Linked DNA regions of Homo sapiens: regions 1 and 3 are each linked to region 2. Evidence: fine-mapped expression QTL. A gene starts in region 2. Each other region holds a variant in brackets. All regions are shown on one strand. Distances are from middle to middle. Region 1 overlaps TOP6BL (TOP6B like initiator of meiotic double strand breaks). Region 2 holds the start of DPP3-DT (DPP3 divergent transcript). Region 3 holds the start of MRPL11 (mitochondrial ribosomal protein L11).

What was found. PIP is the estimated chance that this variant, and not a neighbour inherited with it, causes the effect.
Region 1: its variant is fine-mapped to the expression of DPP3-DT in whole blood (TOPMed, PIP above 0.99).
Region 3: its variant is fine-mapped to the expression of DPP3-DT in whole blood (INTERVAL, PIP above 0.99).

Annotation. Positions count from the first base shown.
Region 1 is chr11:66,760,376-66,770,846 of GRCh38, forward strand. The region is part of intron 2 of TOP6BL (TOP6B like initiator of meiotic double strand breaks); the gene reads left to right. It also overlaps the pseudogene C1QBPP2. Among named protein-coding and RNA genes, the nearest start is that of TOP6BL, 21 kb to the left of the region's middle. The variant C/T (reference allele first, on the strand shown) is at 4,268.
Region 2 is chr11:66,475,428-66,485,755 of GRCh38, forward strand. DPP3-DT (DPP3 divergent transcript) reads right to left here and starts at 4,822. Exons shown (of 4, transcript NR_120586.1): 1 at 4,612-4,822. PELI3 (pellino E3 ubiquitin protein ligase family member 3) reads left to right here. Exons shown (of 8, transcript NM_145065.3): 8 at 171-1,910. The coding sequence ends at 740. DPP3 (dipeptidyl peptidase 3) reads left to right here and starts at 5,007. Exons shown (of 18, transcript NM_130443.4): 1 at 5,007-5,038; 2 at 6,766-7,043; 3 at 9,746-9,835. The coding sequence starts at 6,774. RefSeq lists enhancers at 843-1,663, 2,301-2,894, 3,833-4,400, 4,977-5,146, 9,329-9,690 and a silencer at 4,787-4,836.
Region 3 is chr11:66,429,876-66,440,346 of GRCh38, forward strand. It overlaps MRPL11 (mitochondrial ribosomal protein L11), which reads right to left and starts at 8,973. Exons shown (of 5, transcript NM_016050.5): 1 at 8,757-8,973; 2 at 8,289-8,384; 3 at 7,475-7,568; 4 at 7,229-7,388; 5 at 5,200-6,237. The coding sequence starts at 8,879. The coding sequence ends at 6,132. LOC124900311 (small nucleolar RNA SNORA43) reads left to right here and starts at 2,888; the gene lies at 2,888-3,027. RefSeq lists a silencer at 8,732-8,871 and an enhancer at 8,962-9,221. The variant A/C (reference allele first, on the strand shown) is at 5,679.

The sequences.
Region 1 (10,471 bases), 290 kb after region 2:
GAGGCAGAGGCTGCAGTGAGCCAAGATCATACCATTGCACTCCAGCCTGGGTGACAGAGTGAGAGACTCTGTCTCAAAAAAAAAAAAAGAAAACATACTGTGTATTAAAATGGCAACAACTGGCCAGGCACAGTGGCTCATGCCTGTAATCCCAGCACTTTAGGAGGCCAAGGCAGGCGGATTGCTTGATCCAGTAGAACTTTTTGGAGTTCAAGACCAGCCTAGCACCATCACGAGACCCCATCTTTACAAAAAAAAAAAAAAAAAAAAAAAAAAAAATTAGCCAGGGAAGGTGGTGCACACCTGTACTCCCAGCTACTTAGGAGACTGAGGTGGGAAGATTGCTTGAGCCTGGGAGGTAAAGGCTGTAGTAAGCCGTGATCACACACCACTGCACTCCAGCCTGGGTGACAGCAAGACTTGGTCACAAACAAACAAACAAAAAAAGGGAACAACCAAAAAGCTACATTGGAAAGGTATAATGTTATAAAATAAATGTTTATGAAATGTATTACCATTTTTTAATGACAAATTTTCTTCGTGCTTTGTAAAATGCAAATCAATTAAAATTTGAATTTATACCCAAATTTATAGCAACTCAATTATTACTTAAAGCACCTTTTTTTTTTTTTTTGGAGGAGATAAACCCATTTTATTGTCTATCATGTTATACAAAAATCTAGAAATAATAGATTTGTATAGAAAACAACGATAGGCCGGGCGCGGTGGCTCACGCCTGTAATCCCAGCACTTTGGGAGGCTGAAGTGGGCGGATCACGAGGTCAGGAGATCGAGACCATCCTGGCTAACACGGTGAAACCCCGTCTCTACTAAAAATACTAAAAATTAGCCGGGCGTGGTGGCGGGCGCCTGTAGTCCCAGCTACTCCAGAGGCTGAGGCAGGAGAATGGGGTGAACCCGGGAGGCGGAGCTTGCAGTGAGCCGAGATTGCGCCACTGCACAACAGCCTGGGCGACAGAGCGAGAGACTCCGTCTCAAAAAAAAAGAAAAAAAGATAAAAAGGAAAAAAGAAAAAAATGATAATAAATGAGGGTGCAAAACATAGAATTTAAATTTGGTATTTTTTCCCCATGATATTAGGATGATAATCATTTCAAAGCACATGTCTAGCTTCATAGTAGGATTTGTTCACTGGCCAAAGCCTGCCATAAAACTATGGCTTTCAGTGTCTGTCTGCTCTACTGGCTCTTGACAAAACTTTTGAGGTCTTCAAGAAAAGTAATGTACGCCTGGTGCTCCGGGGCTGTGCGAAGCTCCACCAACTCATCTGCAAAAATGTTGTCCACCCCTTGGTCCGCAAGGAAATCCATTAGGTGGTCATATAAGGCCCAGTCCAGGGAATCTGTGTTGAGTGTATAGTTAGTATCCTTCCATTCAAACTCGCTGGTGGACCAAAAGCTAACTTCCCTGATAGAGAAGATGTCACTCAGCCTCCTCTTCTTGTCCAGCTTCATCCTCTGGATAATGACAGTCCAGCACAAGGGCCTTCTTGCCATCATTCTTTATAGCTTCAACCACGAAATGGGGAGTTGATATCAATTCAGGGTCTTCAACCTTCTGCCCTTGCGAGGGTTCCTCCTCACCATCAAATGTTGGTGGGATGCTGTTGTTAATATTGAAAGTGACAGTGATTTTTTCCCCCCAGCAACTTTCCGCACTAATTTAGCTTCTGTCCCATTCAGTTCCAGCTCCCAAACTCCAGACATCTTAGGAAGGGTTTTATGCTTCTGGATTTTCCTTTCCTCCTGAATTTCATCACTCAGGAAATCAATCAAAGCTTTGTCTCCTTCGCACGCCACACCCACAGCCGGAGGTGCAGGGCCCGCGAGGCCGCAGGGGGCCCGGCCGCAGAACACGCGCGCAAACTGAGCAGCCTGAAGGGCGGGCGCACAGCCGGGGCGCCGGCCAGGAGCTGCCGGAAAGGCGGGGCGGGCCCCGGGGGTGTGGAAGCCGGCGACGCAGAAGCCCAGCATATGGGGCACTCAGCGCAGCAGTGGCAGCATGGCGGAGAGGACTGCGAACATGTGCGGATGCAAAGGACAACCCAGGCCTAGGTACCCAGAGTACCCTTTTTTGTTTGTTTGTTTCTTTGAGACGGAGTCTCGCTCTGTCGCCCAGGCTAGAGAGCAGGGGCGAGATCTTGGTTCACTGCAACCTTCCGCCTCCTGGGTTCAAGCGATTCTCCGGCCTCAACCTCCTGAGTAGCTGGTATTACAGGTGCGCACCACCACGCCCAGCTATTTTTTGCATTTTTAGTAGAGACGGGGTTTCACCATGTTGGTCAGGCTGGCCTCGAACTCCTGATCTCGTGATCCGCCTGCCTCGGCCTGCCAAAGTGCTGGGATTACAGGCGTGAGCCACCGCGCCCGGCCAATACCTTTCTTTATCTTGGTCATATCAAAGAAAACAAACTATTTTTACAACTCAGTTACAAGATGAATACTCTAAAGACACAAATATATAGGAAACAATTCTACCTTTTGAAACTTCTTTTCTGAAGTAATTTTTAGTTGAAGAATGGAGACAGGCCAGCTGAAGTGTCTCACACCTATAATACCAGCACTTCGGGAGGACAAGATGGAAGAATCGCTTGAGCCCAGTAGTTAGAGACTAGCCTGGGCAATATATTGAGACCCCCATCTCTACAAATAAAGAAAATTAGCCAGGCATGGTGGGGCATACCTGTAGTCCCAGCTACTCAGGAGGCTGAGGCAGAATTGCCTGTGCCCAGGCATTTGAGGCTGCAGTGAGCTATGATCATGCCACTGTGCTCCAGCCTGGGTGACAGAGTAAGACTGTTTTTAAAATAAAAAAGAATGAGGACTTAAAAATGCTTGTTGCTAAATGAAGTGATCAGATGTATTCCCCTTTTCCTTTGTAAATTGTCTTGGCCCTCTGAATCTACCTTCCAACTGTCTGTATCCTTGGATATTTTACAGACTTCGGCTTTTGCTCTGTGACCCTAATTTTGTTTAGGTTCTACTTGGTGTGAGCACATTAATGTTTTTTGTTTTATTTTGAGCACATTTAAAAACTAATTGTGGAGGAAAAGTAATAAAAAATGAGATTTTAAACATTATTATTATTATTATTATTAGAGATGAGGTCTCACTATGTTGCCCAGGCTGGTCCTGAACTCCTGGGCTCAAGCAGTCCTCCCACCTCGGCCTCCCAAAATGCTGGGATTACAGGCATGAGTCACTGCACCTGTCCTATTATTATTTTTGAGACAGGGCCTTGCTCTGTCACCCAGACTGGGGTGCAATGGTGTGATCATGGCTCACTGCAGCCCCAAGCTCCTGGACTTGAGCCATCCTCCAGCCTCAGCCTCTTGAGTAGCTAGGGTCACATGTGCACACCTCCATGCCCAGTTACTTTTTAAATTTTTTCTAAAGATGGGATCTCACTTTGTTGCCCTGGCTGGTCTCAAACTTCTGGTTGGTCTCAAGCTCTCATGCAACAGCCTCCCAAAACGTAGGGATTACAAGTGTGAGCCACCCTGCCCAGCCAAGATTTTTATTTTAGCTCCAGAACATTCTGTGAGCATTTGGTAAGAATGTTCTCCCTTTAGTATTAATCACAATGATAATTTATTGAGCATTTACTATGCATTAGGCCTTGTGCTCCACTTAAAGGTAGTTATAGTAGTGAACAAGACAGATTTGGTTTCTCCCTTTATACCCCTAGTGAAGATACCTTAATTATTCTATTGCCTCTTTAAGCCTATGCCTAGAAAAAAGGGAATATCAGCTATTGTCCTGAAGAGTTTGCTCTGATTCTGAGACTTTTGGGAGATCTGAATCCAAGTTCAAGAATCATGGGCTGACTGCTTCAAAAACATCTAATTATTTATAAGTTTTTCCTTGTTCATTTTTGAATTATTGTCTTTGGGTTGATGCAGAGAAGGGAAAGATCATTCCTAGTGGCCCTGCTCCTGTTAATGTCTGTGAAATTGCTTTGAAAGAAGTGAAAATCGGCCGGGCGCGGTGGCTCACACCTGTAATCCCAGCACTTTGGGAGGCCTAGGCGGGCGGATCACAAGGTCAGGAGTTTAAACCAGCCTGGTCAACATAGTGAAACCCTGTCTCTACTAAAAATACAAAAAAAAAAAAAAAAAAATTAGCTGGGGGTGGTAGTGGGCACCTGTAACCCCAGCTACTTGGGAGGCTGAGGCAGGAGAATCGCTTGAACCTGGGAGGCGGAGGTTGCAGTAAGCTGAGATCATGCCACTGCACTCCAGCTCGGG[C/T]GACAATGCGAGACTCCATCTCCAAAAAAAAAAAAAATAAAGAAGTGAAAATCTGGCCAAGCATGGTGGCTCTGACTAAAATCCCAGCACTGTGGGAGACTGAGGTAGGCAGATTGCTCGAGCCTTGGGCAGCATGATGAAACCCCATCTCTACAAAAAATACAAAAATCAGCCAGGCATGTGAAAATCAGCTAGGTGTGCCTGGGGTCCCAGCTACTAGGGGGCTGAGGCAGGAGATCCATTTGAGCCCAGGAGGTCAAGTCTGCAGTGAGCTGTGATTGCGCCACTGCACTACAGCCTTGGTGACAGAGTGAGATCTTGTCTCCAAAAAAAAAAAGCTATATAAATGGAGTATATTATTAGCACTAGGGAGGAGATAGGAGCATTCCTTGCAAAATAAACCCACACTTAATGTGCTTGTACAAGGAGTGGTCAGATCATATATAAGGCTACTTGTTTGACTAATATTTGTGAAAGTGCTTTGAAAAAAGTGAAAAGCCGTGTAACTACAAGAGAATAGTTTTATTATCATTGTTACTCTTAGGGAGTATCATTTATGGGTTATCATTTATGGAATAACCACATACTCATGCCAATACAAACTCTAGACAATTTTTGTCATGGTGACTTAGTTTTAATTTAACTGTTACTTTAAAAACTCAAAGCAATTTCATTTAATCCTTATTGTGATAAAGTGTGAGTGGCTAACTCTTCGTACAAAGAGGAAGTACTGCACATCAAGTACATAATTAAAATTGAATCATTTGCTCATGCTCAATCACATTTAGTAGCCAACTGTAGCCTAAGTCTTCTCTCCAGTTGTTAGGGCTCTTAATATTAACCTCCACTCAATAATGCTAGTTATTCTTTTTGTTTGTTTGTTTGTTTTTGAGATGGAGTCTCACTCTTGTCACCCAGGCTGGAGTGCAGTGGCGTGATCTTGGCTCACTGCAACCTCTGCCTCCTAGGTTCAAGAAATTCTCCTGCCTCAGCCTCCCAAGTAGCTGGGATTACAAGCGCCTGCCACCACGGCCAGCTAATTTTTATATTTTTAGTAGAGATGGGATTTCACCATGTTGGCCAGGCCTGTCTCGAACTCCTAACCTCAGGTGATCCACCCGCCTCGGCCTCCCAAAGTGCTGGGATTACAGGCGTAAGCCACTGTGCCTGGCCTAGTTATTCTTACTAATTAGTAACAAAAATTACTCAGTGAACCTCACAAAGGAAATTGGTGAAGAATAAGACAGGAATCCCTTAGCTCCCTGGTTTATGCACCATTAATTATGCCTTTTTTACTATTATTATTTAGAATTTCTGACACTATTAAGCTAATAGCAAACTGCTTTAAATTGGTCCATTTACTGATCTTTACACTGTTTAGTTAGCTTCATCAGGGAGTCTCTGGCAGCTGGATTCATTACTCATCAGTTTTCTAGATGCTAAAAAATTGTGTATCTATACAAAGTTAATATGTCTGTAAATTCAGTTTAACTCTGTTGTTTTCTTCATTATTTGGCTGATTTCTCTCAGTGTCTAAAACAAGTGGTCTGACCCTTCTTTAGGGGAGCTGAACTGTTGAAGAACTATCAGCTTTAGTTTCCTTTACTCTTCAATCTGTTCTACCAGGGTTGTATCAAGGTACTTTTTTCTCTGGATCTGGAATACTTTAGATCAATTCCTGTACCAAATAGGCTCATATTTCTGTGTATTTTATTTATGCTGGATTAATAAGCAATGACCATTGTAATCTCCCTACTCACCTACTTCTCTACTGGTTTATTTTCTCTTTTTTCCCCTTTCTTCTCTGGTCCCTAACTATTTATACTTTTATTCAGTAAACTTTTATTGTAACATCTACCTTGCCACAAAGAAGTCACAGGAAGTAGAGGCAGCTCTGCAAATAAAATGCAGTGTGATTAGTACTGTAATGGAGGTGTAAGTTGAAAGAGCTTCTCTCATAACCCAGAGGATATTCCCCAAAGTTCAGTCACCAATGTGCTTTTCTTCCCTTCATTATTCTGCATCATTATTCTACATTCAATTCAGACAGCTTTTCTACTTTCAAGACTTTAACTAACATTAACTATGCTGATGAGACTTATTTTTCCCCCTCTTGATCACTGACATGTCTCCTAAACTCCAATGGAATAGCTTTGAATGTCAATTAGACTATTCCATTTGAGAGTTCCTCTGAAATATCCTGTGTAACATGTCTAACATGGGGTTCAGTTTCTTGAAATGAACTTATTGTGTAATGTCTGCATTCCTTTCAGTGATATTGACATACTCATAATTCTCCAGCGTTAAAAATCTTGGTTTTTATGGTGGGGTTTCTCCTTTTTTGTTTCCTCATTATGTAATTGATTTTTCGTTAATTCTGCCTTTATAATATAAAATTCTTATTAATTTAAACATAGCTTACATTCTTCCCTTAATGATTCCTTATTTATTATTATATTAGGTCTAAGTACTTCAGACCAGAGTTAAGGCCTTCTCTCAAGAGGATAATCCCCTCTACTTTGCAGAATAATGCCCATTAAGATAGATAAGTTCTTATGTGTTTAAAAAATTGTCACTACATGTTAAATGTGTGCTACTGTCTGCATTGAATACTTATCTACTTAGGTATAATTCCATTTATATATTCATTTATGTGTATACTTATCCATTTATATAGAACTATTTCTATCATAAATGTCTTTTAGTGAAACATGATTGTTTCAGTTTGTCCTATTTGCTCAGCTCTGCTTCCTATTATGTCCTTATTCAAGTGAGGAAAGGAAAGTGGATGGAGGAATATGAAAAAAATCCATGTTTATAGATCTTTATTTTGCTGCTTTTTCCTCTTTCTTCTATTCATATTATTTTTATTTTTGTCTTTTTAAAATAGCTTCTCATTTCCATGTTTATTGACATAACTTAGCTCTTTATACAGTATGGCCAGTTATTTTAAAAAGATGTGCAAGTGTTTTTCCCAAATAAAATTTACAGCCTTCTTTTTTCTTCATAAGACTAGATAAGAATACCAGTCCTTGTAAACAGGGAGGACTGCTTTGCTGTTGATATATGGTTACATGGCTATGATAGTTCAGTTTTTGCCTCTTCCCTATATGCTACCCTTTTGGTGTCAGGGAGACTTTTTTGTTGTTCATTGTTTTGTTTTTTGGAGGCAGGGTCTTGCTCTGTTTCCCAGGCTGAAGTGCAGTGGCATGACCACAGCTCATTGCAGCCTTGACCTCTTGGGCTCAAGGGATCCTCCCATTTATAGCCTTCTGAGTAACTGGGACCACAGGTGTGTACCACCATGCCCAGCTAGTTATTTTATTTTTTGTAGAGATGAGATCTCACCATGTTGCCCAAGCTGGTTTTAAACTCCTGGGCTCAAGCGATCCTCCCACCTTGGCCTCTCAAAGTGTAAGGATTACAAGTGTGAGCCTTCATGCCCAGCCTGTTTATTTTCAAGTTTACTTTTGTCCTCTTTGTTAATTTGTTGGGAAAGAAAGTGAGGAGTGGTGCTTTTCATGGGTTAGAGAGATTGACAGGTCCAGACTTGCTCAACATTGAGTAAGAAACTCACAATGGTGAACTCTTGAATGTCTGACGTAATCAAGTTTTTTTTTTTTAAGTCTGAGATTCTTGTATTCAAGAATAAAAATCTATTATAATTTTATATCTTACAAAATCAACAACTCTAAGGCTCAGAATTTATCTAACGCTTTTTCCCCCGGGAGCTCATTTTGTAGACATGATCTCATTCATTCTTGAGGAGCAGTCAGACATAAGTGTTATCATCATCTCTGTTTCAGAGATGAGAAAACTGAGACTTAGCCTCATATACTAAGAAGGGAAACATTTGTAGACTCATAGGTTGCTGGTTATCCATTAAACTGTGAGAGACTACACTTAATTTTAAGCTTTTGATACATTCTAAACAGGCTGTTGTTGCCAAATTTACCTAACGCTTGGTAAGATTTTATAAAGGTTGGCTGAAGATCAAGACACGCTAAAACAGATTTTTGTTTTTTGTTTTTTTTTTTTTTTGCTTCCTTAATATTTCTTTACTCTTTTCCTTGTTACATTTATCTAATTGCACTTCACTATTGAGAACATGTTCAAGATTTGATGTGACAGAAGGGGATGGAAAGGACAGAAGTGGTTTTTACCAACCCTGACATATTCCTTTTCCTTTTGAACTTGGATAGATAAAACAGGAGGAAAAGGATAGCTCTTATTATTAGAGATCCTGGGAGCTGGCTCATTCTCTGGCTGAGTGGTACATAACTGCTTTTATTCAGCAGCCCATGAGAGCTAACCTGCCTTGTACCTGGCTGGCTTAAAATGCTTGAACTGTTACAATTCCTCATTGAGTAATCAGCTGGGCACTTACTGTTCCAACTCTGTCCTTCTGGGTTACCACACATCTTTCATCTTCTCAGCTGGGAACACAAGGAGAGTTGTCTCCCTATAGTGGTATAGTGGAATTTGGCTGGAATGGGAAGAGGGGATACTGTATTTTTTCTTGAGTAGACTTTATGGCTAGCCATTTAATACATTCTGAAAAATGGTCAGATGACATCACATAGAAAAATTACCTCAAAATGGATCAAAGAACTAAAGCTATAAAACTCTTAGAAAAGAAAGAAAGGTTTAAATCTTCATGACCTTGGATTAGGCAATGTTTTCTTGGATATGACATTTAAAGCACAAGCAACGAAAGGAAAAGTAGAGAAATTGGATTTAATCAATATTAAAAACTCTTATGCTTCAAAAGATGATACTAAGAAAGTGAAAAGATCAATTATACCTAAAAAAAAAAAAGCTGGAAAATGAAGGTCTCTAGTTCCAAAACTCAGAAAAAAAAGGTGAATAAATAATCCACAGATAAGAAAAGTCTAGTATCCAGTGTACATATAGAACTTATACAACAACAATTAAAGGACAAATAGCAAAATTCATATGGTAAAGCCCCAACCCCCAGTGTGATAGTATTTGGAGATGGGGCCTTTGGGAGGTAAGTGGGGTTAGATTAGATCATGAGGGTTGGGCCTTCATGAGATTAGCAGTTTTATTTATTTATTTATTTATTTATTTACTTATTTTTTAATTTTTATTTTTTGAGACAGAGTCTCACTCTGTCGCCCAGGCTGGAGTGCAGTGGTGCAATCTTGGCTCACTGCAAGCTCCACCTCCCGGGTTCATGCCATTCTCCTGCCTCAGCCTCCCGAGTAGCTGGGACTACAGGCGCCCACCACCACGCCCGGCTAATTTTTTTTTTTGTATTTTTAGTAGAAATGGGGTTTCACTGTGTTAGCCAGGATGGTCTCAAACTCCTGACCTTGTGATCCGCCTGCCTCGGCCTCCCAAAGTGCTGGGATTACAGGCGTGAGCCACCACGGCTGGCCTGAGATTAGCAGTTTTATAAGAAGAGGAAGGGAGAGAGAGATTATTCTCTTTTTCCCTCTCCCTCCCTTGTATCCACCAAGGAAAGGCCATGTGAGGGCACAATGAGAAGGCAGCTATCTGAAAGCCAGGAAGAGAGCCCTCATCAGGAACCAAATCAACTGGCACCTTGATCTTGGCCTTCCCAGCCTTCAGAATTGTGAGAAATAAATTTCTCTTGTTTAAGCTACCTAGTTTATGGTCTCTTGTTATGGCGGCTTGAGTGGACTAAGACAACATTTATCCTAAAAAGATACACACATGGCCAGTAAACCCATGAAAAGATAGATGCTCAGCATCATTAGTCATTAGGGAAAAATGCAAGTCAAAAACATAATGAGGCCAGGCACGGTGGCTCATGCCTGTAATACCAGCGCTTTGGGAGGCTGAGGTGGGAGGATCACCTGAGGTCAGGAGTTGGAGACAAGCCTGGCCAACATAGTGAACCCTCATCTCTACTAAAAATACAAAAATTAGCTAGGCGTGGTGGCCGGTGCCTGTAATCCCAGCTACTTGGGAGGCTGACCCAGGAGAATGGCTTGAACTCAGAAGGTGGAGGTTACAGTGAGCTGAGATCACACCACTGCACTCCAGCCTGGGTGACAGAGCCAGACTCTATCTCAAAACAAATGCTCCACACACCAGTGGTAATATGAAATTGAAGTTTTTTAAACTCCATCTTCCCCTTTACTTCCCTCTTCTCTTTCCTGACACCCCTTCTGGCCTCCTTACCCATCGTTGGCCACTTAGCATAGTATAATCCCC
Region 2 (10,328 bases):
CATGTGCCTGGGATGCACCTGCCTGCCCACTTGGCCTCCTAGCCTGCCTTGCTCCTCTGCCCTGCCTGCCCTGCCCGCCAGGGTGTCCTCTCCAGGGAGGCTCTGTGGGATGGACCCGCGGCTCAGCAGGGGCCTCTTGGGCAGTAAGGCCCTTCTACTGCCTCTGGCAGGTGGAAAACGAGTCCAACGTGCTGCAGGACGGCTCTCTCATCGACCTGTGTGGGGCCACACTGCTGTGGCGCACACCGGCGGGGCTGCTGCGGGCTCCCACACTGAAGCAACTGGAGGCCCAGCGGCAGGAGGCAAATGCAGCGCGGCCCCAGTGCCCCGTGGGCCTCAGCACTCTGGCCTTCCCCAGCCCAGCCCGTGGCCGCACAGCGCCCGACAAACAGCAGCCCTGGGTCTACGTCCGCTGCGGGCACGTCCATGGCTACCACGGCTGGGGCTGCCGGCGGGAGCGGGGCCCCCAGGAGCGCGAATGTCCTCTCTGCCGCCTTGTGGGGCCTTATGTGCCTCTATGGCTTGGCCAGGAGGCCGGCCTCTGCCTGGACCCTGGGCCGCCTAGCCATGCCTTTGCACCTTGCGGCCACGTCTGCTCTGAGAAGACTGCCCGCTACTGGGCCCAGACACCACTGCCCCACGGCACCCATGCTTTCCATGCCGCCTGCCCCTTTTGCGGGGCCTGGCTTACCGGCGAGCATGGCTGCGTCCGCCTCATTTTCCAGGGCCCGCTGGATTAGGCTCCCTGGGGCCCCCTGCTGCTGTGCCCACCTGCCCACCCAGGTCCCCACCTCCTGCAGCCCAGAGGGAGCTCTGCATGTGGGACACTCCCTGCTGGCACAGCCACACCAGATGGACATGTTGGATGGGCTGTGCCCTTCCCCCCAACTGTGGCCCCCCAAGGAGGTCCCCAAGATCTCCACCCCAGTCATGCTGATGGGGCCTTCAGCACCAGCTCTGTCCTGGGTCGATGGAGGAAAGCCCAGCCCCATGGCCTTGCCCTTCCTGGGGCATCCCACATCGTGCCGCCGACACTGTGTGCCCCTGGGGGAGTGAAGGGGCCAGGGGCCTTTGACCCCCAGCTTAGGCTGGCTATGCCCTGAGCCTGCCAACCCAGTTTCAGACACTCATCCTTCATCCTTCCTGCTGCCGCCCTGGGTTCCTCTATAAACCTCGCTGCTCAGCTGCCCCCACAAGTCCCACATGCCCCGCATGCGTGCAATGCCTCCAGCCCCCAAGTGAGTGGTGGGTGGGTGGCAGGCTGGGCCTAGCACTTGCTGATAGCCACTATGGGCTCGACTCTGTGCTAAGTGGTATCTGGGGACACAGAGGCAATCAGACCTGGTTCCCCCCCTGGTGGAGTTCACAGTCTAGTGGAGGACAGACTGTTAACAAATGGCAACACGGCTTCATGCGTGCCAGGATCAGAGTACAAATCAGGCTGTGGCAGGCCTCACTGGTAATGGAAAAGTGAGGGAGGCTTCACGGAGGAGGTGTCATAGGAGCTCAGCCTCAACGGCTGCTCGGAACCCTCCGAGTCCACAAGATGGGAAGCAAGTCCACAAGATGGGAAGCGTGCTCTATACAGAAGGGAGGGCCTGTGCACAGGCTCAGGTGTCAGTAAGCCAGAAATCCAGGGACAGAGTCAGGATGGCTGGAGCATGGACTGCGGGGGGAACAGAGAAGGGGGTGGAGCAAAAGGTTGGGACCATGTGACCAGGGAAGATGCTGGATGGAGGATTCTGAACCTCATTTGTGGACGGTCAGGAGTCAACAAAGGGAGGAGAGAGGACTCACTGGTCAAGAGTGTCGGCTGTGACACAAGGGCCATCATCCCTGAATGCCCACCATGTGCCCCGCACTGTGCTGATGATGATAATAATAACTACGTCCATTGAGCACTCTCCAGACACCGGGCTCTGCTTCTTGGAGGTTTTGTTATTTAATCCTCATAGTAACCCAAGAAGGGAGGTGTTGCCATTTTTGTCTCTGAGGAGATGAGGGCAGATGCACCAAGTCACACAACTAGAAAGTGGCCAAGCCAGGATTTGAATCCACAGCTGCTCCTCTCCATCACAGTGTTGCTTTCCTTCAACAGAGGTGGGGGTGAACCAAGCAGGGTTTTGGATACTAGATTGGTGGACACCCACCTGCTTCGTGCCCAGCCCTGCGCAGGGCCCCTGCAGTGGGCAAGGCCGGGCCTCTTGCAGCCCATGGTCTGCAGAGGGACCTACCCGTGCTTGTGTTGGAAGCTGGCCCCCACACCTGTGCTGGCCACCTGTACCCCAGGCCAGGATGCAGTGGGCTATTAGCCAGGCTGGAAGTGTTCAGAGGAGTGAGAACCAGGGGCTCTAGAAGGCCCAGGGAGGACCTGGAGCCTGAGCCAAGTCTTGAATGGCAGAGCATCTCCAGAGGCAGAGAGGAGTTGGGAGGGCAGCCCAGGTGAGGGGAACAGCATGGTGTGGCAGGGAACATGCCTGGTGTGGAGGGGGGCAGCAAAAAGGAATGGGGGGTAGGGAAGGTTGCTGGGGCCTGGTGGGCCTTGATTGCCATGGAAGCCAAGCCTGAACTGGATTCCTATTCATCCTGGCCACAGGTGGGCGTGTTGCTGGGGTTGCCCCAGACCATTCCTGCAGGGAGCGAGCCAGGAAGACAGGCAGACGGCTGTTCTGGAGATGAAGAGAAGAAGGCTCTGAGTATAGGCCTGACCTGGGCATCGTCCCCAATAGATGACAGAGCCTAGGGAAGTACAGATTCCAAGGGGAGGGATGGACCTGACCAAGGCCACACAGCTGGTTGCGGCCAGGGAGATCAGACCTGGGTTATTGAGAAGACAGAGGGCACCCGAATGTGATGAGAGAAGGAGGAGGGTGTGATCAGATTCTTGCTTCCAGAGCATGGCACTGCTGCAGTGGGGGTGAAGGGGAGGGTGGGGATGCTGCAGGAGGTGTGGGAGCATTCCAACTTCTCTCCCCTCAACATACACACAACACACAAAGCACTCAAAATCCAACTCTTCCAAGTTCTCTCTTCTGACCCTGTTGGGAACCAGGCAGGGGAACATTCTGATCCCATTTCCAGTGGGGAACCTCAGACCCTAGGAGGAAAGACCAGCAAAGGGCACCACAGTAGATGCTGGGGAGGATTCAGAGGTATTGGTGGAGGAGGTCAGAGCCCTGGTCTTGTCCCAGCTCTGCCTTTGCCAGCTGTTAGAGCCTCAGTTTCCTCAGTGCTAAAGGGGATAACAGTCACTACCTCGCCAGGTGGTTGTGAATATACAGAGAGCACCTGTAACACAGTTGATTCGTAACTGTTGCTCCTCACCGACCCCTTTTGCATTCCCATGGGGAAGAGCCAAGGCTGGGGAGTTATGACTCCAGTGATAGACTGCTCCATGTGAGTGACTGTGTGTGTGTATCTCTATGTTGGGGCCAGGGATATCTGAACTGTGTGGTGTTATAGGAGTCGGCGAACCTCTTAGCCTCAGTTTCCCTATCTGTACAATGGGTAAAGTGATCATACCTCAGGATTTTTGCAAGAATTAAATGAGGTCCTCCATGCCAAACTGCTAGCAAGGGACCTCAGTATATGCTCATCTTATCTGTGATCATAAAAATGTGATCACGTAGCTGGTTGGGGGGTCCTGAGAGCACTGGGGTCTTTTCCTTGCCTGAGCTGCCCCCTGCTGGCAGTGGGCAGCACTACCTCCCTTACCTGTGCACATTTCAACTTCACCTGTCAGCCAACTTTATACCCATTTTAAAGACAATGAAAACGGAGGCACAGGAAAGAAGAGGGGTGACTTTCCTAAGGACACCGACCAACTTGTTGAACTCCCCCATATAACAAGTAATCATCAAAGCTAACAGCTTGTAACACTGTTGTGTCAAGCAGGGCCTTGGGCACCTTTGTGGATGAGAAACTGGTGTCTATGGTAAGCAGAGGCTGTCTGGCCTAGACACGGGCGTAGCAAGGAGACCGTGCGGGATTTCAGTACCCAAACGCCCCTCACCCTGCGCAACTATAGGGAGCGGCACTGCAGTCAACACATCACAACTTACAATATCCCTTGGATTGGATTCAATTATTAGCCTGGTTTTCCGGTTCATAAAGCCAAGACTCCCAGACAACCTCACTCCACCCCCCAGTCTGACCCTGGGCCCTCACCACTACTCCCCATTTGGCCTAGGCCCTTCCGCATGCCCCACCCAGACCGTGGTCCCGTGAGTCCGTCCAGACCTGTAAAAGTGGACCGCGGGCCCGCCTCTGCTCTGGACTCCCTTTCGGGGCCGCAGGAGGCTTTCTCATCCATCAGGCATCTGGCAAGCACCAGGAAACTACCAGCCTGTTTGTGCTAAGGAAACTGAGGCTCGGGAATGTTTAGCGGCTCCTTCCAGGCCCGTGGCGGGTGGGTGGTGGTACAGTGAAGCAGTCGAGGCGTTTCTCCGCGCCCCTACACGGGTGGGACCACCTCAGCCCTGGCCCGATCCCACTCAACCGTAGCCCCGATTCCCGGCACCGAGAGCTTTGCAACTTCCAAGTCTCCACCCCCAGGTCCCGAGTCCCGAGAGGAAGGTGGAGCCACATTACTCCTATTGTGTAGGTTCCCACCTGCAAGAGTGCTGTCGGGTCCTCTGAGGTGAAACCCCAAAGGAAAGCGGGATCGGGACTGGGGGAGGGGGATTCCCAAGTCCCTGACACCCGCGCCGTCTCGGCCTGGGCTTGGTGACCTCGTCAGTCCCGTCTGCCGGGACTAGGCCGCGGCCAGGCCGGGCACAGCGGTACCCGGTCCGGCGCGTGTGCGGCCTGCTGACAAAAGGCCGAGCCCGCAGGGCCAATCCGCGCGCCACCCCGTAGCGCCTGGGGGCGGGAGCGGGCGAGCCGAGAAGCTCGTCTTGGCGCGTCTATTGGCTGGTACTGACGCCCATCCGGACCCCGAGGCCAGGCAGTTGGCCAAGGGGGGCGGGGTTCGCAGAGCCCCAATGAATGGGGGAGCCGGAAGCAGGAAGTGAGTTTGCGAACGGAGCAGCTGCTGCAGGTGAGGCGCGGCGCCTGGGCTTTTGGGGTCAAAGCGTGTCATCCCGGGGGACCAAGGCGAATCCATACTGAGCGCAAAATCGTTCCCTTTCTGCCCACTCTCCAGTACCCCCTCCAAATTCACCCCGCCCTCGAGGCCAAGGAGTGCTCCGGGGAGCAAAGAGTTAACAGCCCTTTCCGAACCTCGAGGCTGTGCTATTGGGGCGGGGCTTCTGGAGGCCGGGGCAGGGCGAGGAGGCTGGACACTCTGTCCCAGCCGGGACGGGGCGTGGCGGGGAGAATGCCCCGGGTTGGGGAATCCCCGGGTTCCAACGGGGCTGTCAGACCTTCAGTAAATTGTTGCCCTTTCCAAGCCTCAGTTTCCCTATCTGTAAAATGGGCTTTCTTCTGGTTGTGAACTTCTGTGGCTTCCCTGGTGGAGCACAGGGAGCGAGCAGGAGAATGGAGGGCCAAGGAAAAGGCATTTAGAGGGATGAGAATGGGACAGTTTCAAGCAAAATCATTTATTGCTGTGGATACTTTCCGTCCAGGGCGACTTCATCTGATTAGCGCACCCACCTGGTAATATTGGGGTTATTCTCTCTTTTATAGAGGAGGAAACGGAGGTACAGAAAAGTGAAGCAATGGACTTGACTTTTAGGAGTCTGGGGCCGAGTCCTGGCTAAAGGCTGAGCCTTCCAGCTGGCGGCCTGGCACTTTATCCTTGTGAGCACAGTGGAAAGTGTAAAGAATTCTGAACAAAGGCCAGGCGCGGTGGCTCACGCCTGTAATCCCAGCACTTTGGGAGGCCAAGGCAAGCAGATCGCTTGAGGCCAGGAGTTCGAGACCAGCCTGGACAAAATAGCGAGACCCCGTCTCTATCAAAAATACAAAAAATTAGCTGGGCATGGTGATGCACGCCTGTAGTCCCAACTACTTTGGAGGCTGAGGCAGGAGAATCGCTTGAACCCGGGAGGCGGAGGTTGCAGTGAGTCAAGATCATGCCACTGCACTCCAGCCTGGGCAACTAAGTGAGACTCCGTCTTAAAAAAATAATACTGAACAAGGAAGCAGGGAGGGGCCTGGGCTGGGAGCCTAGAGATGAGGATCTCTGCTGCTGATGTCTCCATTGTGGGATTAGGCAAGGCTCTTAGCCTCTCTGAACCTCAGTTTCCCCATCTGTAATACTAGGTAGTTAGAGTCAATCAATTTTTTTTTTTTTGAGGTGGAGTCTCACTCTGTTGCCCAGGCTGGAGTGCAATGGTGCGGTCTCAGCTCACTGCAGCCTCCACCTCCTGGGTTCAAGTGATTCTCCTGCCTCAGCCTTCCCAGTAGCTGAGATTACAGGTGCCTGGCACCAAGCCTGGCTAATTTTTGTATTTTTAGTAGAAAGGAGGTTTCACCATGTTGGTCAGGCTGGTCTTGAACTCTTGACCTCAGGTGATCCACACACCTCGGCCTCCCAAAGTGCTGGGATTACAGGTGTGAGCCACCATGCCTGACCTTAGAGTCAATCTTTAAGGTTTAGGGACTACAGACCAAATATGGTCCACCAGTGTATTTTGTGACCCCTTGGGTGAGTCATCTCACCTTCTCTAAGCCTCAGTTAGCATATCTGGTGAATGGGTACAATAGTATTCCCTTCCACATGGGCTTTTGGGAGGATTAAATGAGATCATAAGAGTTCAGAGCCAGGTATGCAATTGGTATGGGGTAAACAACAGCTGTGATGACAGTGATGGTTCTCAGCAGGGCCCATGGCGGACACCCAGTACATCCTGCCCAATGACATCGGCGTGTCTAGCCTGGACTGCCGTGAGGCCTTCCGCCTGCTGTCACCCACAGAGCGCCTCTATGCCTACCACCTGTCCCGTGCCGCCTGGTACGGAGGCCTGGCTGTGCTGCTTCAGACCTCCCCTGAGGCCCCCTACATCTATGCTCTGCTCAGCCGCCTCTTCCGCGCCCAGGACCCCGACCAGCTGCGCCAACATGCCCTGGCTGAAGGCCTTACCGAGGAGGAGTATCAGGTCAGTTCTCTTGGGCCAACCCACATTACCTGAGTGGCTTCTGGGTGTGAAAGACCAGGATGCAAATGTCTGTCTCTTTCAAGGGGTAGGTGGAGGATTAGACCAAAGGTTACAAATTCAGGCACTTCCCCTCTCTGGAGCCTCAGTCTTCTCACCCGTAAAATATGCATGTGGGATGTCTGTACCTCTTAGTGTTGTGATGACCCACTTAGAACAGTGCCTGACTTCAAGATAAATGATGGCTGCTGTGATTATAACAAAAGAAACTGTGGTGGAGATTCAGGGAAGGCAGAAGAAGGAGTCCAGAGTAGGTATCAGGAGGTCTGAGTTCAGGACCAGTTCTTCTCTACCACACTGTGTGGCCCTGGGCAGAATGTTCTGCCTGTCCCTTGGTTTTTGTTTTTGGATGTATTGGCCAAGTAATACACAAATTCTTAGTGCATTGCAGCAATGCAGAAAGACACAAAAGAAAACACAAAGATCACTCATTCTCAGTGCCCTCCTCAGAGGTAACCCACTGAGGCTGATACAGCCTTTTCTTTCTCTCTCTTTTTTATTTTTTATTTTTTTTTTGTGACAGAGTCTCATTCTGTCACCCAGGCTGGAGTGCAGTGGCGTAATGTTGGCCCACTGCAAACCTCCACCTCCCAGGTTCAAGCACTTCTCATGCCTCAGCCTCCCAAGTAGCTGGAACTACAGGTATGTGCCACCACACCGGGCTAATTTTTGTATTTTTAGTACAGGTGGGTTTTCACCATGTTGCCCAGTCTGGTCTTGAACTCCTGGCCTCAAGTGATCCACTTGCCTTAGCCTCCCAAAGTGCTGGGATTACAGGCGTGAACCATCGTGCCCAGCCTTGGTTACAGCCTTTTCAATCCCATCTGTGTATTACATACATTTATGTGTATATGCATGGTGAATCAGTTCCTTATTTTCTTTTTTATAGAAATGAGATAATGTTCTTTTCCTGCTTTGTGTCCTGCTTTTTCCATTGAATGCCATGTCTTGAAGAACTTGGAGAATGGGGTACATTTAAATGTACCTCATTCTTTTTTATTGACTGTAAAGCATTCCACAGCAGTGTACACTATAATCAATTTAATCTTCATTACTGGACATTTAGCTTGTCCCGTTTTTCTTACAAACAGTGCCATGGTGAGCATACTTGTGCACACATGTGAGGAGGATCTATTTCTAGAAGAACTGCTGGGTCAAAGGCTCTGTACATTTACAATTGACTGATTCTGTTAAATCATCTTCTAAAAAAGCTTCACTGCATTATATTCCCACCAAGAATGTACAAGAATATGGCCTGTTTTTCTATATGTGAAATAAAGGGATTGGATTGTTTCTCTCTGAGCTGATGTACTGTTTATTCTACCTCTTTTGAACTTTGGGCATTCACTTCCCATCTTGAGGCCTTGGCTTACTCATTAAAAGAGCTAATATCCGTGGAAATGTTTATAAACAGAAAGGTGCAACCCAAGCGTTATTATTTTCAGGGAAATTCTTTTTTTTTTTTGTGGGGGACGGAGTCTCGCTCTGTCACCAGGCCGGAGTGCAGTGGCACAATCTCAGCTCACTGCAACCTCCAACTCCCTGGTTCAAGCGATTCTCCTGCCTCAGCCTCCTGAGTAGCTGGTATTACAGGCATGCACCACCACGCCCAGCTAATTTCTGTATTTTTAGTAGAGATGGGGTTTCACCATGTTGGCCAGGATGGTCTCAATCTCCTGACCTCGTGATCTGCCCGCCTCGGCCTCCCAGAGTGCTTGGGATTACAGGTGTGAGCCACCACGCCTGGCCATTTAGGGGAATTCATATGTTTGCAAGTGGCAGAAACCCAGCTCAAATTGGCTTACATGAAAAGGAGAATTGTTGGGTCACATGCTTGAAAAGTCCAGGTCTAGAGGAAGTTTCAGGCATGGCTGGACTCGGACTCAGTGCTACCACTGGGATGCAGTCTTCGTCTCTCAGCTTGCTTGCTTTTCTTACTCCTGGAGGGGAGCTCCAGGAGTTCCAGGCCTGATGATCCCTGGTGTACAGAGGCTCTTTGCCAATGGGAAATGTCCTGGGTAGCTCTCTTATGCCAGCTTGAGCCTTGTGTCCATCCTGTAGCCAAGGATGGTGGTTTCTCAGACTGACTGAGCCAGGTTACATGCCCACCCCTGGAGCTGGGGGAAGGGAGATCCCCCACCCCACCCTCCCACCCACAAAAGGAGGATTGAGGTCTTGTTACCAGAGGAAGATCTGGGGCCAGCAGAAGCCATAGAATAGACAGATGATTAAGGCCTCTCCGGCTCTAACATGTGATGCTTCCAAGGCCAGCTGCCTGACAGGTCAGAGGCTGAGGACAGGCTCTGGAGAAAGAGGGAGGTGCTGCTGGAACTGGGCCTTAAAGGACACAGTAGCTTCAGGTGGCTGAGAGGGTGCTGGGGTGGGGAGGGAAAAGGCAGACGAATGCTTGGGTGTGTTTGGGAACTGCCCAGAAGATCAGTTAGGCCAGACAACGGGGGTGTGAAAATGGGTCTGTGGAAGTGAGTGTGGGCCAGACTGGGGCTTCCCAGGACCTAGGTCCTGCCCACACATTTCCCAGCCTCACCCACACTGGCTCTGCTGGGGCATTCGCATCTCAGGAGGAGGTGTCGCTGGGGTCAGGGAGGCTGTGCTTCCTGGGTCTCTGATGCCTGCCTCCCCCTCAGGCGTTCCTGGTCTATGCCGCGGGTGTTTACTCCAACATGGGCAACTACAAGTCCTTTGGTGACACCAAGTTTGTTCCCAACTTGCCCAAGGTGAGCCAAGGGAGGGTTGGGGAAGGTGGGGATGGGGGGCTGGTGGGGTAGAGATGGAAAATGCAGTAGAAGGAGCCCCAACTGGAGTGTCAGAAGCCCTGAGCAGAGCATGGACCCTGTCGCTTCCACCCTGCATGACTGTGGGTGTCACCAGCCTCACTGGGTGCTGCGGCCTCTTCGTGTATAAAGGAAAAGCACCACTCGCCCTGACTGCTGATCCGCAGGCTGAACAAGGGCGAGATGTGGAAGTGTTCTGTGAACTTTTAGGTGCTCTCAAAAATGGAGCTTGTTGGTCATCACCAGGAACAGTGGGAAGTGCTGGGCCGGGGGCATCCCTCCCAGGGTTATGAGACTTGAGCCTATCTCGGGCAGAGGTGGTTCTTATAGCAGGTATAAGAGCCGGGACTTCAATATGCACACAAGTCACCTGGCAGTCATGCTGACATGCAGCATCTGATTCAGCAGGTCTGTGGTGGACCCAAGATTTGACATT
Region 3 (10,471 bases), 45 kb before region 2:
TTTTAGTAGAGACGGGGTTTCACCATGTTGGCCAAGCTTCTCTCAATCTCTTGACCTCGTGATCTACCAGCTTCAGCCTCCTAAAGTGCTGGGATTACAGGCGTGAGCCACCATGCCCAGCCGCCCCACAACTTTAAAAGGTAAAAATTATGGAAGAAAAAAAGAAACCCCTCCCTGGTATTTGGTGGCAGTGACAGGAGATGGTAGAGTGTGTGTGGACAAGAAGGCACCCTGACACTCAGAACTGGAGAGCCAGGCCGTCGACCCATGCGGAGAAAGAAGTTGAGCGAGCCCATTGCGCCCCCTGCTGGACATAGAACCATCTGCTTCTGTTCCCTTCCCTGGCACGGTCCCTGTGGCTCAGAGCATCAACAATATTGCATCTTAGAATAGATGGGTAAACTGAGGCCCAGAGAGAAGAAAGGAATTGCCCAATGGCACTTCCAAAGTGGCTGCAGAAGCCAAATCTGACTCTCAAGCACCCTTGCCACCAACACCAGGTTGCTGCCCTGGGAGCAAAAAGGTATGAGAAAGGGCTGAAGTTTTGGAGTCACAAAGACTGAGGTCAAATATTGGCTCTGGCACTTCATTTTGCATGTGATAAACACTTATGACACCTACATGCGCCAAGGGCTTTGCTGGGTCCTGGGGAAAACTGAACAAGACAGACAAGGTCCCTGGACTCACAGACCTTACACTGAAGTTGTGGGGAGACGTAACAAAAAGTAAAATAACTCTTTAAAGGGAGCATGCAGTGCGTGCAGTGAAAGAAAGAACCTGTGTACTGTGGCCGAGCGGAACTGAGGAGGGGGTGCTAATTTAGAATGTGGCATCAGAAAGCTCTTCTAAGGTGACATTGAGCTAAGACCTAAAAGATAAGAAAGAAGAAGAGGCCGGGCACGGTGGCTTGTGCCTGTAATCCTAGCACTTTGGGAGACTGAAGCAGGTGGATAGCTTGAGTCCAGGAGTTTGAAACCAGCCTGGGCAACAAGGCAAAACCCCGTCTCTACAAAAAAAAAAAAAAAAAAAAAAAAAAAGCAAAAAGTTAGCCAGGTGTGGTGGTGTGCACCTGTAGTCCCAGCTACCCAAAAGGCTGAGGTGGGAAGATCACCTGAGCCCAGAAGGGCGAGGCTGCAGTGAGCCTTGATTGCACTTACACCACTGCACTCCAGCCTGGGTGACAAGAGTGAGACGTCGTCTCAAAAAAAAAAAAAAAAAAAAAAAAAAAAGTCCGGGCGCTGTGGCTCACCCCTGTAATCCCAGCACTTTGGACTTTGGGAGGCAGAAGCGGGCGGATCACGAGGTCAGGATATCAAGACCATCCTGGCTAACACGGTGAAACTCCGTCTCTACTAAAAATATAAAAAATTAGCCGGGCGTGGTGGCGGGCGCCTGTAGTCCCAGCTACTCGGGAGGCTGAGGCAGGAGAATCACTTGAACACAGGAGGCAGAGGTTGCAGTGAGCTGAGATTGTGCCACTGCACTCCAGCCTGGGTGACAGAATGAGAGAAAGAAAGAAAAGGAAAGAAGAAGGAAAGAAAGAAAAAGAAAGAAAGAAAAAAGAAAGAAAGAAAGAAAAGAGAGGAGAGAGAGAAAGAGAAAAGGAAGGAAGAAAGGAAGGAAGGAAGGAAAGAAGGAAAGAAGGAAGGAAAGAGGAAGAAGAGTGCTCCAGGTCAAAGAAAAGCAAAACTAAGGGTATCAAAATGGGAAAGGATTGACCTGTTTAAGGAATAGGAAAGAAGTCAGTGTGGCAAGGGGAAGAGTGGCTGGAGAGAAGGAAGATTACCCAGGGCCTTTGGACCAGGATAAGAAACTTAGATTTTATTTCATGTGCAATAGGAATCCTCTGGGGAAATTTAAGTGAGAGAACGACATATAATTCACATTTTTAAGCCATCCCACTGAAAGTTGTGTGGAGAATGGATTGAATGAGGTAGGAGGAGAAGCAGAGACCAGTTTAGGCTTCTGCAGTGATCCAGGCAAATAGGACGAGAACTCACACCCAAGTGCTTCCCTCAAGTCCAGGCGGAGGTGAGTGACTGGCTTTGGAATGCTTCAGAGGCAGAACTGACAGGATTTGCTAATGGATTTCAAATGGGGGTGAGGAAAAGAGAAGTCTCCTGTTTCTGACTTTAGTGAGTGAGTGAAGGGTTGTTGTTTACTTAGAAAAAACTGCCTGGTCACGGTGGCTCACGCCTGTAATCTCAGCACTTTGGGAGCCTGGGCGGATCACGAGGTCAGGAGTTCAAGACCAGCCTGGCCAATATGGTGAAACCCCATCTCTACTAAAATACAAAAATTAGCTAGGCGTGTTGGTGCGCACCTGTAGTCCCAGCTACTCTGGAGGCTGAGGCAGGAGAACTGCTTGAACCTGGGAGGTGGAGCTTGCAGTAAGCCGAGATTGTGCCATTGCACTCCAGCCTAGGTGACAGAGTGTCTCAAAAGAAAAAAAAATAGAGAAAAAGATGGAAAAATGGATAAGAAAGTTTTGTTTTTGTTTTCCTTTTTTTTTGAGATGGAATTTCGCTCTTGTTGCCCAGGCTGGAATGCAGTGGCATGATCTTGGCTCACTGCAACCTCCGCCTCCCGGGGTCAAGTGATTTTCCTGCCTCAGCCTCCTGAGTAGCTGGGATTATAGGTGTCCGCCACCATCCCCAGCTAATTTTTTTTTTTTCAGTAGAGACAGGGTTTCACCATGTTGGCCAGGCTGGTCTCTAACTCCTGACCTCAGGTGATCTACCCACCTCGGCCTCCTAAAGTGCTGGGATTACAGGTATGCAACACCACGTCTGGCCAAGAAAGCTTTAAAAGATAAGAAAGGATTCCCACCCTGGCCACAGGCTGGGTGTCTCTGGCTTGCTGAGTAGGTGTGGGTGACTACCCTGAAGATGCCTTCCGGAACATGCCAGCACCGCAGATGCTGGCAGTCTGCTGTGCCCGTGATATTGGGCAAAGAGGAAGTGGCTATTTCTACACTTGGTGTTCAGAAACCAGTGAGCTCTAAGAATGGTTTATAGCCTGACATTTCTTAGAAAAAAGAAAAAGTTAAACAAGATTCCAGGCATGGTGGCTCATGACTGTTATCCCAGCAGTTTGGAAGGCCGAGGTGGGAGGATCGCTTGAGCCTACAAATTTGAGACCAGCCTGGGGAGCATGGCGAAATCTCATCTCTACAGAAAAAATAACAAAAAAAAATTAGCCAGTCATGGTGGTGTTCACCTGTGGTCCTAACCACTTGGGAGGCTGATGTGAGAGAATCACTTGAGGCCAGGAGTTGGAGGCTACAGTGAGCTATGATTACACCACTGCACTCTAGCCTGGCAAAAGGGCGAGACCCTGTCTCAAAAAAGGAAAGAAAGAAAAAGAAGAAAGAGAGAGAAAGAAGGAAGGAAAGAAGGAAAGAAAGAGACTTCTTTTGGCACAGTGGCTAATGCCTGTAAGCCCAGTGTTTTGAGAGGCTGAGGCGAGAGGATTTGAGGCCAGGAGCTTGAGACCAGCCTGGGCAACATAGCAAGATACTGTCTCTTTAAAAAAACAAAATAGGCCAGACATGGTGGCTCACGCCTGTAATCCCAGCAGTTTGGGAGGCCAAGGTGGGAAGGTTACTTGAGGTCAGGAGTTTGAGATCAGCCTGGCCAACATGGTGAAACCCCATCTTTACTGAAAATACAAAAATTAGCTGGGTGTAGTGGCACATGCCTGTAATTCCAGCTACTCGGGAGGCTGAGGCAGGAGAATCGCTTGAACGTGGGAGGCAGAGGTTGCAGTGAGCCAAGACTGTGCCATTTCTTGTCTTGGAGACAAGAATGAAACTCCATCTCCAAAAATAACAACAACAATAAAAATAAAATAAAAGTAAATAAAAAATAAACATAATTTAAAATTCACCAGGCATAGTGGCATGCACCTGTATTCCCAGCTACTTGGGAAGCTGAGGCTGGAGGATCCCTTGAGCCCAGGAGTTTGAAGCTGCAGTGAGCTATTACTGCACCACTGCCTGGGTTACAGAGTAAGACCCTGTCTCTAAAACATTTAAAAATAAAAAAGCCAGGCGCGATGGATCACGCCTGTAATCCCAGCACTTTGGGAGGCCGAGGCAGGCAGATCACAAGGTCAGGAGTTTGAGACCAGCCTAGCCAACATGGCAAAACCTGTCTCTACTAAAAATACGAAAATTAGCCAGGCGTGGTGGTGGGTACCTGTAATCCTGGCTACTTGGGAGGCTGAGGCAGGAGAATTGTTTGAACCTGGGAGGTGGAGGCTGCAGTAAGCTGAGATCGTGCCACTGCCACTGCATTCCAGCCTGGGTGACGAGAGCAAGACTCTGTCTCAAAAAAAAAAAATTAATTAATTAAAAAAAAATTTTTTTTTTAAATGAAGTCTTGGCCAGGCACGGTGGCTCACACCTGTAATCCCAGCACTTTGGGAGGCCAAGGCGGGTGGATCACCTGAGGTCAGGAGTTCGAGACCAGCCTGGCCAACATGGTGAAACCCTGTCTGTACTAAAAATACAAAAAAATCAGCCAGGTGTGGTGGCAAGCGCCTGTAACACCAGCTACTTGGGAGGCCGATGCAGGAGAATCACTTGAACTTGAGAGGCAGAGGTTGCAGTGAGCCAAGATTGTGCCACTGCACTCCAGCCTGGGAGACAGAGTGAGACTCCATCTCAAAAAAAAAAAAAAAACTAAGCCACTAAGCCATCATTTAAAATTGTTTTAGATAATTTTTAGGCCAGGTGCAGTGGCTCACGCTTGTAATCCCAGCACTTTGGGAGGCCGAGGCGGGCAGATCATGAGGTCAGGAAATCAAGACCATCCTGGCTAACATGGTGAAACCCCGTCTCTACTAAAAATGCAAAAAAAATTAGCCGGTGTGGTGGCAGGCGCCTGTAGTCCCAGCTACTTGGGAGGCTGAGGCAGGAGAATGGCATGAACCTGGGAGGCAGAGCTTGCAGTGAGCTGAGATGGCGCCACTGCACTCCAGCCTGGGTGACAGAGCGAGACTCCGTCTCAAAAAAAAAAAAAGAAAGACAATTTTTAAATGTTCTAAATAGTTGCTAACTTGAAAGTATACAGCGTTGTACAGCTATATAGAGTATGACCCCAGTTTGTTTTTTCAAAAAGCATTATACATAAATACACACACAAAGAAAAAAAGGAGCAGAAAAGATATACACCAAATATTGGCAGAAGTCTCATCTGGGTGGTGGGATAACATGAGGTTTTTATTTTCTTTTAGGTGTTTATCTATGCTTTCCATATTTTCTCAGTGTAAAATGAAGTGTCTAGCACATAACAGATGGTCAGTAAATGCGAATCTCCTTTCTCCCCCAACTCCTGCTCTCTTCTCTGAAAGGACAATGAGGAAATAGAAGGCCAAGGGCTTCCCGAGGACTTCTCCATCAGGCAGGAACCTACTGAAGCTTTGCTCTTTCTGTGGTCTGTAGCTGTCAGCCCTACAATAGTTCATGTTCAGCCAACATCTGACCCAGAGCCAGGGTCAGGAGCTTAGTAGAAGGGCCTGAAGTAGCCCCTGGGATCTGGGTACTCCATGTAGTAACCCTGCCTGGGGCTGAACTGAGATCTCCACAGGGACTTGTTTCTGCAGAGGTGGCAAGTTGTTCAGAGATAAAAGAGATTTTTGATGGAAGAAGTAAGCAATACACCTCAGCCCTAGCA[A/C]CCATAGTTCCCACCCTGGGGAGGGGAAGAACACAGGATTTCAAATGAGAAGGCCTGGGTTCTATTCCTACCTCTGGCACCAATTCAGAACCTGGGCAATAAAACAAAATTATAACTTAAAAAAGAAAAAAAAGGACCTGGGCAAGTTACTTTGCTTGGCTGAACCTCAGTTTGCACATCTGAGAAGCAGTATGAAGACCCCAATTTCCTAATGTCTGCCCATATTGGCTACCACCAGTACTGGTTCCCTTCCCTGAGGTCCCAAGATAGAAGATGACAGTGGGTAAGAAAGGATGTTTATTCAGGCCTGATGCCTCGATACAGCTAGATGTACAAAAATATATCATTCAAAGTCATGAAAACCATCATCATATTGGTGTGACCTCCTTCCTCCCCTTGGGCACAGCTTTTGCAACTACCTCCTTTGAAATCTGGGAGTTGGTGGGGCAAGGGTCACTTCTTGGCAGCTTCTTCTTGGGCAGCCAAATCTGCCTCCTTCTGAGCAGCCAGGAAGATGGCTCGTTCCTTCTGGAAAGCTGCAAGCTCTTCTGAACTGAGGCTGCAAGTGAAAAAAGACAAATGGTTGGCGCATGATTGGTCACCAGTGGGAGCTCACAGGACCCTATGTCTTGCAGGGGCTTGAAGGGGCCCCTGTCTCCAAGCCCAGCTTGCCTGGCCCCTTCTGCCTCCCTGACTTCCCAGCCTCCATACCTTTGCTCATTTCCTCTCCAGGGACAACATCTCCCAACCCCCAACACCCCTATCTTTTGTTCCCTTATTAAATCCCTACTCATCCTTTGAGGCATCAGCCAGGCCCCAGTCCAGATTAACTGGGGTACTCTGTGCCCCAGAATATGCTGTACAATGACGTCACGGGGCTGAGCATGTGTGTCTCTCCCAGGACAGGGGTCAGATTTACCCATCTCCATGCTCCCAGTAAAAAAAAAAAGATTTGAGAAAATTCAAGTCTGTGTCTGCTCCATGCTTAACCCCATTCTTCTTGGGAAATAATCAATTGTCAGCCTTGACATGGGATGTAACACAGCAGCAAGAGGCCAGTAAAGGGTTGAATGCTATCTCTGTCCCGGCGGTTGTCTAGGCCAGACACCCTCCCACCCAACATCTTACTTCAATGAAACAATTCCTGAAGTCATCCGAAGCCCCATGACAGGGGTCCCTGTTTGCCTCAGGAGCAAGCATGAACCTGACACAGCTCAAAAGTCCTTCGCACTGGTCCTTCCCTCATACCATTCTCCACTTGCCTCTAGGACGACAGACCCAGGTCACACTGAACTTCTCCCACTTGGATCCTTCATGGAGATCTTTCCATTTCTTAGAACATTTGCAGAACAACGTCTAATACATAACAGGTGCCCAATAAGAGTATTCCAGATCAATGAATGTGGCCTCCCACCCCCACCCCATCCTCTAGAATCTAGGGTCCCTTGACTTAAAAGCTGACTTTCCCACTGCAATGGGCCCTCTCAGCTCTGCCCGAGTCCAGAGCTTTCTGGGCCCTCTCGTCACACTGCACATGCCAGGATACTTACTCCTTCACCACGCGAATGCCCAGAGAACGGGCAGACCCGATGATGGAGCGGACAACAGACGACAGGGGTACATCCTGCAGGGCAAATGCCTCATCCTGAGCTTTGATGCGGGCAATCTCATACACATGCTTCAAGGTCACCAGGCCTGCCACCTCTTTCCCTGGGAGGAAGGAACAAGTGGCTCTTCAGGTGTTACTGCTTCCTTCTGGAGCCCCCAGAATCTCAGATGCTTACCCTGGCCCTCACCTGTTTGCCGGGCCCCCTTTTCAATCCCAGCTGCTGCCTTCAGGAAGTAGGAAACAGTGGGCTGTCCAATCTTAATTTCAAATGTCCTGTCAGGCTTAACAGAAAAAAGAAATATGAGATTCTCTCTTCCTACTGCCCCATCCCAGGGAACTTCTAATGTCTTGCCCCCTGCTTCCTTCATCTCACTTTCCAATGGCATCCCTCAAAAAGACCACAGAATCACAAGAAAAAAATAAATCGGGGTCAGGCGCAGTGGTTCATGCCTATAATCCCAGCACTTTGGGAGGAAAAGGCGGGTGGATCACCTGAGGTCAGGAGTTCAAGACCAGCCTGACCAACATGGTGAAACCCCATCTCTACTAAAAATACAAAAAATTAGCCGGGCGTGGTGGCGGGCGCCTGTAATCCTAGCTACTCGGGAGGCTGAGGCAGGAGAATTGCTTGAACCCGGGAGGAGGAGATTGCAGTGAGCGGAGATCGTGCCACTGCACTCCAGCCTGGGCGACAAGAACAAAACTCCATCTCAGAAAAAAAGAAAGAAAAAAATAAATCTGCAGCAAACATCCCTGTCCCCTCTATTCCTGCCCTCATTCTGCTCTGGAAGCCCCAGTGAGATGGAGGGGCAAAGGGAGGAACTGCAACATGGCAAGATGGGGCTGGTTCAGAAAAAATATGATCTAGTCCTAAATGGGGAAAGTGGAGCCCAGTAATAGGAAGTCAAGTCAGGAGCAGAGAAACAACCCCAGATGACCAGTCCCAGGGCCGAGGAAGAACAGAGGGAGAAGGAAACCAGGGATCAGAGTCCAGACTCCACCTTCACTAAAATCTTGGTAGGCAGAGGAATGCCTTCCTTGATGTCCTTTGTCCTCTCATTGAACTCCTTGCAAAACTGGTTGATGGAAACGCCTCTCTGTGAGGGAAGCAGAGGGGGTTAGTGGTGAGAGGAGGGGACGGCTTCCTATCGCCCAGGAGGCGCCGTCCGTTCCCTCCTTCGTCTTCACTTCTCTGGGTTCCCATCTGTACCCAGATTCAACTACCCCTCCGTGAGCCAGAAGATCGTACGCATCTTCCCACGTTATCCTCATTACAGCACATTGAAGAAGGGATGAGGAAGCCCAGGTGGAAGACACTTTGTAACCAGCACAAGGACATAAAGCGTGTGAGAAGCAGAGCCGAGCTCTGAACCGAGGCCCGGGTGGTTCCAGGGCCAGCGCCCTCCATCCGCGTCCTAGCTTCCACCATCCTAGACAACCCCCACGTCGGGTTCCCGCCACGGCCGCACCTGACCCAGCACTGGGCCTAGTGGGGGCCCGGGCATGGCCAGGCCTGCCCGCACGATCGCCCGGATCACACCGCCGACCTCGGGCTTCCTGAGGCCCCGGGCGGCCCGGCCGAGCTTTGACATGATGCGGGGCTGCTGGCTTCAGTTCACCTCAGGGGAGCAGCAAGAGCGAAGCTCTGGGCGCCACCATCTTGGGCCAGAGGTCAAGGGTCCTCACGTTAGGCTAGGGCAGGTGAGGCCAACAAACAGCAGCCTTGTTTCAACCCTATTGCTCGCCAACTAGTAAGACAAGGAGGATGAGAGGAGGATAAAACACTTTTTAACTTGTTTTATGCAGATAAAGGAAGGGCCCGAATGGCCTAGGTACACACATTCCCACAGGAACGCGCACAGGCACTACCTCGGACAGCTAACCAGTAGGGTGGGACCTTGATACCCCATAGCATTGTGGGTATGGTAGTTTTGACTCCGTGTGCAGGTCCGGCCAATTGCTATGCGCCAGGGCGCCATCTGCTGCACACGGTGATAATCCTAGGGTTTGAAATACACCTGGAGCTCCTGATTGGTAATGGAAGTCTCTCCTCTCTCTGTTCCTCACATGCTGTTGAAAGGCAGTACGGTTGAGTGTAGACCCTGAGCTGGGCACGGTAACTTACGCCTGTAATCCCAGCACTTTGGGAGGCCAAGGCAGGAGGATCGCTTGAGCCCAGGAGTTTGAGACCAGCCTGGGCAACACAGCAAGACCCCATCTCTACTGGGCGGGAAGATCAGTTGAGTCCAGAAGTTGGAGGCGGCAGTAAGCCAGGATTGCGCCACTGCATGTGAACTTAATCAAGTTTCTTATGCTTTGTCTCCTCCCCACTACAGCAGGTATTGTAATATGTAGCACCTACCTCTTAGGATTGCTGTGAGGACTAAGTTAGCAAAGTGCTTAAAACAATGCCCGGCACCTAGTCAGCATGTGCTATTATTAACCGTACGATTAAGATAAAACCTGAGTTGTTGTGAGGCTTAACAGACCCAGAACATTCGATATATCATCTGTGACCAAATAAGCCAGCATCTTATTGTATCATGAGGAGAGCAAAAATCACCTGGTGACCTTTGAATCATGAGGAGAGCAAAAATCACCTGGTGACCAGAGACAAAAACTCCTTATCTGAGGAATTGAAAAGTAATTAAACTTCCCTAGTGTGTCCGGAATTGGTGGGTTCTTGGTCTCCCTGACTTCAAGAATGAAGCCGTGGACACTCACGGTGAGTGTTACATTTCTTAAAGGCTGCGTGTCTGGAGTTTGTTCCTTCTGATGTTTGGATGTGTTCTGAATTTCTTCCTTCTGGTGGGGTTCATGGTCTCGATGGCTCAGGAGTGAAGCTGCGGACCTTCGCGGTGAGTGTTACAGCTCTTAAGGCGGCGCGTCTGGAGTTGTTCCTCCCAGTGGGTTCGTGGTCTTGCTGGCTTCAGGAGTGAACCTGCAGACCTTTGCGGTGAGTGTTACAGCTCACAAAGGCAGTGTGGACCCAAAGAGTGAGCAGTAGCAAGATTTACTGCAAAGAGCAAAAGAACAAAGCTCCCACAGTGTGGAAGGGGACCCGAGCGGGTTGCCACTGCTGGCTGGGGCAGCCTGCTTTTATTCTCTTATCTGGCCCCCGCCCCACATCCTGCTGATTGGTCCCTTTTACAGAGAGCCGAGTGGTCTGTTTTGACAGGGTGCT